Linked DNA regions of Homo sapiens. The protein of the gene in region 1 purifies or fractionates together with the protein of each later gene. This does not show direct contact. Each region holds a gene or a part of one and is shown on either strand. Other genes may lie near its edges.

Region 1 (3,816 bases):
CCAAACCGAAATACAATTTTTTATACCTTAAAAATTTCCCTAGACTTCCTATTTCATTTGATTCATTCAATCCAAACACAGATCTGGCTGTGTATGGAAAACTATGCCGTAGACTGTTGACTTCTTCTAATTAGCACAATAATCTACAGTGAAAAGGATTTTTTTTAAATTAGGCAATATAGGAAATAAATACTCCCAGTTTAAGGTGGCCTCTATTATTATTGGACTTTAGTTAGCTGGAAATGTTAGTTGTGAAAGTACTTACTTTGTAATGTCAGACAAATTAGATATTATATGTAAACTATTCACTGAAATGCCTATTTGAATTTTTCTTTCAGTATCTTGCATTTTAACCAGAGACACATATTTAATATATATAAATGAGGATTTTGAAATATTAAATAAGGCTTTGGTTAATTCTGTGTGAAAAATTATATAAGGTACTCAAAGAATCTTCGTTCTGTTTATTTATGAACACAGAAAGATATGCTTTTAAAACTCTCAAATTTTAAAATTGATTTAAGCCCAGTAGCAGAAAATACTCTTGACATTGGCAGAAGTGAATATTGTTAATATTTAGATTAATCATTCAGGATTCAGATATATCCAGATATGACATAATATCTAAACAAAGATTTCTCCTGACATCTGCTGTATTAAATTATTATAGAATGAAATAAACAACTAGATTCAAGTAGTAGATTACAACACTGGAGCCCACAGCAGCCTTGAGAGCAGATTATCTCCTCTTTTCTAGAAGTCTGGTTGATTACTGCTGGCACCAGCTTTTGAGGAAAATAAGGATGGAAGTAGAGATCCCTTGACTTGTGCACATTCTGGGAGAGAGAGTGGCCCTGGGCCAGGCTGGCTGCATGGGTCCCAATCAGTGGGGCTGCACTCCATCATGGTGTGCCCAGGATGAGGAATAAGTGACACTTCAGCTGTCGTGACACTGCTGAGGCCTCTGGGTGCCAGAGAAACATCTTGCTTCTGAGGAATTCAATTATCAGTGCTGTCAGATTAGAAAAGTGGAGATGAGCTGTGGATAATACCCCTCAGATTTAAACATTTGCAGGATGAAACAGGAGGAGCAGGTTAACGAAGAAGACAAGTCTTCAGTCAGAACAGCTGGCCAGGCACGGTGGCTCACGCCTGTAATCCCATCACTTTGGGAGGCCAAGGTGGAAGGATCACCTGAGGTCAGGAGTTCCAGACCAGCCTGGCCAACATGGCAAAACCCCATCTCTACTAAAAATACAAAAATTAGCTGGGTGTGGTGGTACATGACTGTAATCCCAGCTACTCCGGAGGCTGAGGCAGGAGAATCGCTTGAACCCAGGAGGCGGAGGTTGCAGTGAGCCAAGATTGCACCACTGCACTCCAGCCTGGGTGACCGAGCGAGACTCCGTCTCAAAAACAAACAGGCAACAAAAACAGCTAATATGTGATTCGACTGCCCCATTGCAGGATTAAGAGAGAGCATAAAGCATGCAGCACTAAGCTAGGCACATAATGGCTACCCAGTCAGTCAGGTTCGTATATAAGAGTGAGTTATCTGTGGGCTGCTTAGGTGCAAGAAGGACAAGTCGCATAATTTTCACCAGTGTCTTCATGGGCTGATGGGCTGATTTCAGTTGTTTTCACTCCTCTCCCTAAAGGGCACAGACAGCCCCATGTATGGGCTAATTCAGTTGGTGTTTTCACTCCTTTCCCTCAGGGACACGAGAGCCCTATGTATTAATTACCAGTTAGATTTTCTCTGGGTTTCAGTGACTCCTCCTGAGACAGCTTCAGGGGATGATGTGATGATGATCTCATGGTTTTTTTCCACTGCTCGTGCCTTTAACTCCCTAAAGAATCTCCAGTCTCTTTGTCTGAATTAGGTAAATAAAGCTGTTCTAATTGCTAATGGCTAGAGCTTTGTTGTTTGTGTGTGTATTTTTCTCATTTTAAAATTTCCTCAACTTGTGTGTTTACAAAATAATAAAGCTGGCGCGGTGGCTCACGCCTGTAATCCCAGTACTTTGGGAGGCCGAGGCAGGCGGATCACGAGGTCAGGAGATCGAGACCATTCTGGCTAACACGGTGAAACCCCGTCTCTACTAAAAATACAAAAAGAAATTAGCCGGGCGTGGTGGCGGGCACCTGCAGTCCCAGCTACTCAGGAGGCTGAGGCAGGAGAATGGCGTGAACCCAGGACGCAGAACTTGCAGTAGGCCGAGACTGCGACACTGCACTCCAGCCTGGGTGACAGAGTGAGACTCCGTCTCAAAATAAAATTAAAATAAAATAAAATAATAAAATAAAATAAAAAATATAAAAAGTGAAACAATACAAAAATGAATAATTTTGGCTGGATGCAGTGGTTCACGCCTGTAATCCCAGTAATTTGGGAGGCCAAGGCGGATGGATCGCCTGAGGTCAGGAGTCTGAGACCAGCCTGGCCAACATGGTGAAACCCCGTCTCTACTAAAAATACAACAACAAGAAAAAAATTTAGCCAGGCATGGTGGCTCAGGCCTGTAATCCCAGCTACTTGGAAGGCTGAGGCAGGAGAATCGCTTGAACCTGGGAGGCGGAGGTTGCAGTGAGCCAAGATTGAACCACTGCACTCCAGCCTAGGCAACAAGAGCGAAACTTCGTCTCAAATAATAATAATAATAATAATAATTATTATTATTATTTTTAACTGACTTCTATAGCTGTTATTTTCCTGTCTTTATTCACTGTTCTCTATCTTGCCTTCTAAATTTCATACCGTTTTCAGCCTCTTCTCTGTTGCACTGTTTCCAACATGGTCTTTATTTCTATTATGCTTTTGTTTTTCATTTTTATTTATTTATTTTTATTTTTTTTTAATTTATTTTTTTATTGATAATTCTTGGGTGTTTCTCACAGAGGGGGATTTGGCAGGGAAGGTCAGCAGATAAACAAGTGAACAAAGGTCTCTGGTTTTCCTAGGCAGAGGACCCTGCGGCCTTCCGCAGTGTTTGTGTCCCTGATTACTTGAGATTAGGGAGTGGTGATGACTCTTAACGAGCATGCTGCCTTCAAGCATCTGTTTAACAAAGCACATCTTGCACCGCCCTTAATCCATTTAACCCTGAGTGGACACAGCGCATGTTTCAGAGAGCACAGGGTTGGGGGCAAGGTCACAGATCAACAGGATCCCAAGGCAGAGGAATTTTTCTTAGTGCAGAACAAAATGAAAAGTCTCCCATGTCTACTTCTTTCCACACAGACACAGCAACCATCCGATCTCTCAATCTTTTCCCCACCTTTCCCGCCTTTCTATTCCACAAAGCCGCCATTGTCATCCTGGCCCGTTCTCAATGAGCTGTTGGGCACACCTCCCAGACGGGGTGGTGGCCGGGCAGAGGGGCTCCTCACTTCCCAGTAGGGGCGGCCGGGCAGAGGCGCCCCTCACCTCCCAGACGGGGCGGCTGGCAGGGCAGGGGGGCTGACCCCCCCCCACCTCCCTCCCGGACGGGGCGGCTGGCCGGGCAGAGGGGCTCCTCACTTCCCAGTAGGGGCGGCCGGGCAGAGGCGCCCCTCACCTCCCAGACGGGGCGGCTGGCCGGGCGGAGGGCTGACCCCCCCACCTCCCTCCCGGACGGGGCGGCTGGCCAGGCGGGGGGCTGACCCCCCCACCTCCCTCCCGGACGGGGCGGCTGACCCCCCATCTCCCTCCCGGACGGGGTGGCTGGCCGGGCTGAGGGGCTCCTCACTTCCCAGTAGGGGCGGCCGGGCAGAGGCGCCCCTCACCTCCCGGACGGGGCGGCTGGCCGGGCGGGGGGCTGACCCCCCACCTCCCTC
Region 2 (3,816 bases), on another chromosome or scaffold:
GACTCATTCGTTAACCCAAGGAGGTGGATGGGACAGGAAGAAAACTGGGATTCCCATGCCTGCTTGGGGGCTCAAAAACTCCAAGGACAGGTCCATTGAGAACCCAGCCTTCTACCTTAGGGTGAGGGCAACACACCGTGTACCCGGACCCCAAGGGCCTGGAGTCGTCTTCCCTGGTCATGATTCCCTGCGACCTAAGAGCAAGTGAGGGCAAGTTCCCCAGAGCCAGGCTACTGGGGGAGTTCTAATTAGAAATATGTAGCCTGTTCCCACCAGCCACATTAAAATCCAAGAGCCAGACCCGGCTGCTATACTTTCCACAAACTCCTGTCCCCACAGCTGCTGTTGGTAAAGAGTGGGGGAGCCATTGGTATGAGGTTCCTGGTAACCTGTTTCCCCGTTATAAATATTCGTAATGCCCTCTGTTCTTTAGAGGTATCCCTTTTGGAGATTAAATCTTATGGTTACCTCAGATCATGGATTCTCAATGAGTATGATATTGCCCTGAAGTGGGAGAAAATTGGTTCTCGGGAGGGTGGAAGGAATTTTACTCCTTTTATGCATAAGACACAATTATACATACAGTACATGAGCAGACATACAGTGCATCTGTGATGTTAAGATTTTGCTGGGGAGGCTATTAGGGAAAAAAATCTTAAAAGCCTTCTTGTGGGGCAATAATGAAAAAAGATACAGAAACACTTCTTTAGATGAAGGGAGCTGGCAGCAGCCTATAGAGTTGAGAAAAAGGGGGAAAGAGATTCTACAGATTCTAAAAGAAAAACTGGCTGTCATTTTCAAGAGAGGTTGGCTCTCTTGAGATATGACCTCCTGTTCTCACGTGAGTTCCCCAAGAAGGTTCCTGCCAAGCCCAGCTTTATCGATTGTGAAAACCCAGAGAGGTCTCGCCGCTCGCTCACAAGGGCTTTGTTTGGGAGCTTAGCTTGGGAGACACTGCTGCTTTCTAAGTTTGACAGCACTGGAAGTCTTTGTCCATTAATGCCAGGACCCTGAGTTTGTTTCTGTCTGAACTGAATCTCTTAGGACTAGGCTTCTGTATCACTGGATGATGTTTCTAACTTTTTTTTTTTTTCGAGACAGGGTCTTGCTCTGTCACTTAGGTTGGAGTACAGTGGTGCGATCATAGCTCACTGCAGCCTCTACCTCCTGGGCTCAAGTGAGCCTCCCACCTCAGCCTCCTGAGGAGCTGGGAATACAGGTGCATGCCACCATGCCCAGCTAATTTTTGTATTTTTAGTAGAGACGGGGTTTCACCATGTTGGCCAGGATGGTCTTGATCTCTTGACCTCGTGACCCGCCAGCCTTGGCCTCCCAAAGTGCTGGGATTACAGGCGCGAGCCACCATGACTGGCCTGTTTCTAACTTTTTATTTTTAAAAAGTGTACCCATTAATTTCTAGACATTAAACACACCTATGTTGCCAGCACCCAGATGGGTAAAAAACAGAATACTACCAAACCCTCCCAGTTGTTACACTCAAGATAGTCGCTGTCCCAACCCCACCGCTGTGGTTTGATCTGCTTTTGAACTTTGTCTAAACGGGATCCGAGGTCGGGTACTCTTGTGTGTGGTTTCTTTTGTGCAACATTGTGCCTCTGAGCCTCACCCGTGTTGCTGCATGTAGTTGGTAGTGGTAGGTTTTGCTTTCTCAGCATGTTGGTGTCTTCCCACTGTGTGGCCACAGTGTCTGTTCACCTGTCTGCCCTAAGATGTGTTGCTCAGCCAGGCACAGTGGCTCACGCCTGTAATCCCAGCACCCTGGGAGGCCGAGGCGGGAGGATCTCGTAAGCTCGGAGTTTGAGACCAGCTTGGACAACACGGCTAAACCTCATCTCTACAAAAGATACAAAAATTAGCCGAGCCTGGTGGCATACACCTGTAGTCCCAGCTCCTCAGGAGGCCGAGGTGGGAGGCTCACTTGAGCCCAGGAGGTAGAGGTTGCAGTGAGCTATGATCGCACCACTGTACTCCAACCTAAGTGACAGAGCGAGACCCTGTCTCAAAAAAAAAAAGTGTTGTTCCTTTTTGATGCTAAATTCTTTTTCCACGTCTAATACCTGGTACCTGCCGCCTCCTCCCAGGTGTAAGCCCCCGACAACCTGAGTTTCTCCCTCTACTTGGCCTTGCATCTGATTAAGGCACTGAAATAGGAAATAAAGAAATGAACAAGACTCATATCATCAGAGAATGCTGTGGATTGGAGCTTCTAAGTTACCTGAAATGCGGAAACTCTGTTACCAATGTCCCTTTATAATTGGGAAATAGGCCAGGCGCAGTGGCTCACGCCTGGAATCCTAGAACTTTGGGAGGCTGAGGTGGATGGATCACTTGAAGTCAGGAGTTCGAGGCCAACATGGTGAAACCCCGTCTCTACTGATATATGTATATATGCCGGGAGTGGTGGCACCTGAGGTCAGGAGTTTAAGACCAGCCTGGCCAAAATGGCAAAACCCTGTCTCTACTAAAAAGACAAAATTAGCTGGGCATGGTGGTACATGCCGGTAGTCCCAGCTACTCAGGAGGCTGAGGCAGGAGAATCGCCTGAACCTGGGAGGCGGAGGTTGCAGTGAGCCGAGATCGAGCCACTGCACTCCAGCCTGGGCAACAGAGGGAGGCTCTGTATCCAAAAAAAAAAAAAAAAAAAGGGAACTCGTGTGCCTGTGTTTTTGGAAAGTTGTCTATGCAGCTGTGCTAAAACACCAGAAGCAGATTGCAGCTGATTGTACCCGGGTACAGCATCACTCCAGCCCACTTAGAGCAGAAACCCAGTTTTGGAAACAACACTGCTCTTGCCCCCTGCCCCAGCTCACTGGAGCTGGTGTCTCCCCTCGGCAGCCGTTCACTGGGGCTTTCCCCAGTCCTGCCCCCTGGGCTCTTTCCCTTTTGACACTGCAGTCTGGGGTTGTGTGTATCTCCGTCTAAGCATGGTAGGGCCAGCACCCTCACCAGCGTGGAGACAGCCAGGGTCCCCGGGTGGCAGATAGCCGCCTCATGCCCTCATATGCGTCTCTCAGGCCGCTAAGCCTGTACTATGACTTGATCACCGCCACTGTAGTACTTTTTAATTTCCTTCCTTCAGCTCACACCCAAGAGGGGCCTCCAGTCAATGTCTGTAGAAGCACTGACCATTCCTGCATAATTAGAAGCTGAGGCCTAGCACGGTGGCTTATACCTGTAATCCCAGCACATTGGGAGGCTGAGGCAGGAGGATCGTTTGAACTCAGGAGCTGAAGACCAGCCTGGGCAATGTAGTGAGACCCCATTTCTACAAAAAATAAAAGTAAAAAATAGCTGGATATGGTGGCACACACCTGTAGTCCCAGCTGCCAAGGAAGCTGAAGTGGAGGGATTGCTTGAGACTAGTTTTGTTTTGTTTTGTTTTGTTTTGTTTTGTTTTGTTTTGTTTTGTTTTGTTTTGTTTTTGAGATGGCGTTTTGTTCGTGTTGCCCAGGCTGGAGTGCAGTGGCTCACTGCAACCTCCGCCTCCGGAGTGCAAGTGATTCTCCTGCGTCAGCCTCCTGAGTAGCTAGGATGACAGGCGCCCGCCACCACAACCAGCTAATTTTGTATTTTTACTAGAGACGGGGTTTCACCATGTTGGTCAGGCTGGTCTCGAACTCCTGACCTCAGGTGACCTGCCCACCTCGGCCTCCCAAAGTACTGGGATTCCAGGCATGAGCCACCACGCCCGGCTGAGCCTAGGAGTTTCAGGCCGCAGTGATCTCTGATCTACTGTTGCATGCCAGCCTGGGAAACAGAGCAAGACCCTGTTTCTAAAAATGAGAAAAAATTTAA

The links.
Region 2: the proteins of C15orf40 (region 1) and KLHL36 purify together in Homo sapiens (affinity purification with mass spectrometry; one large-scale study listed by BioGRID and IntAct). This does not show direct contact.

What each region holds. Positions count from the first base shown.
Region 1 is NC_000015.10:82,994,373-82,998,188, forward strand, and holds the end of C15orf40 (UPF0235 protein C15orf40), read right to left. Parts: 3' UTR 445-3,816; downstream 1-444.
Region 2 is NC_000016.10:84,651,195-84,655,010, forward strand, and holds part of KLHL36 (kelch-like protein 36), read left to right. Parts: intron 1-3,816.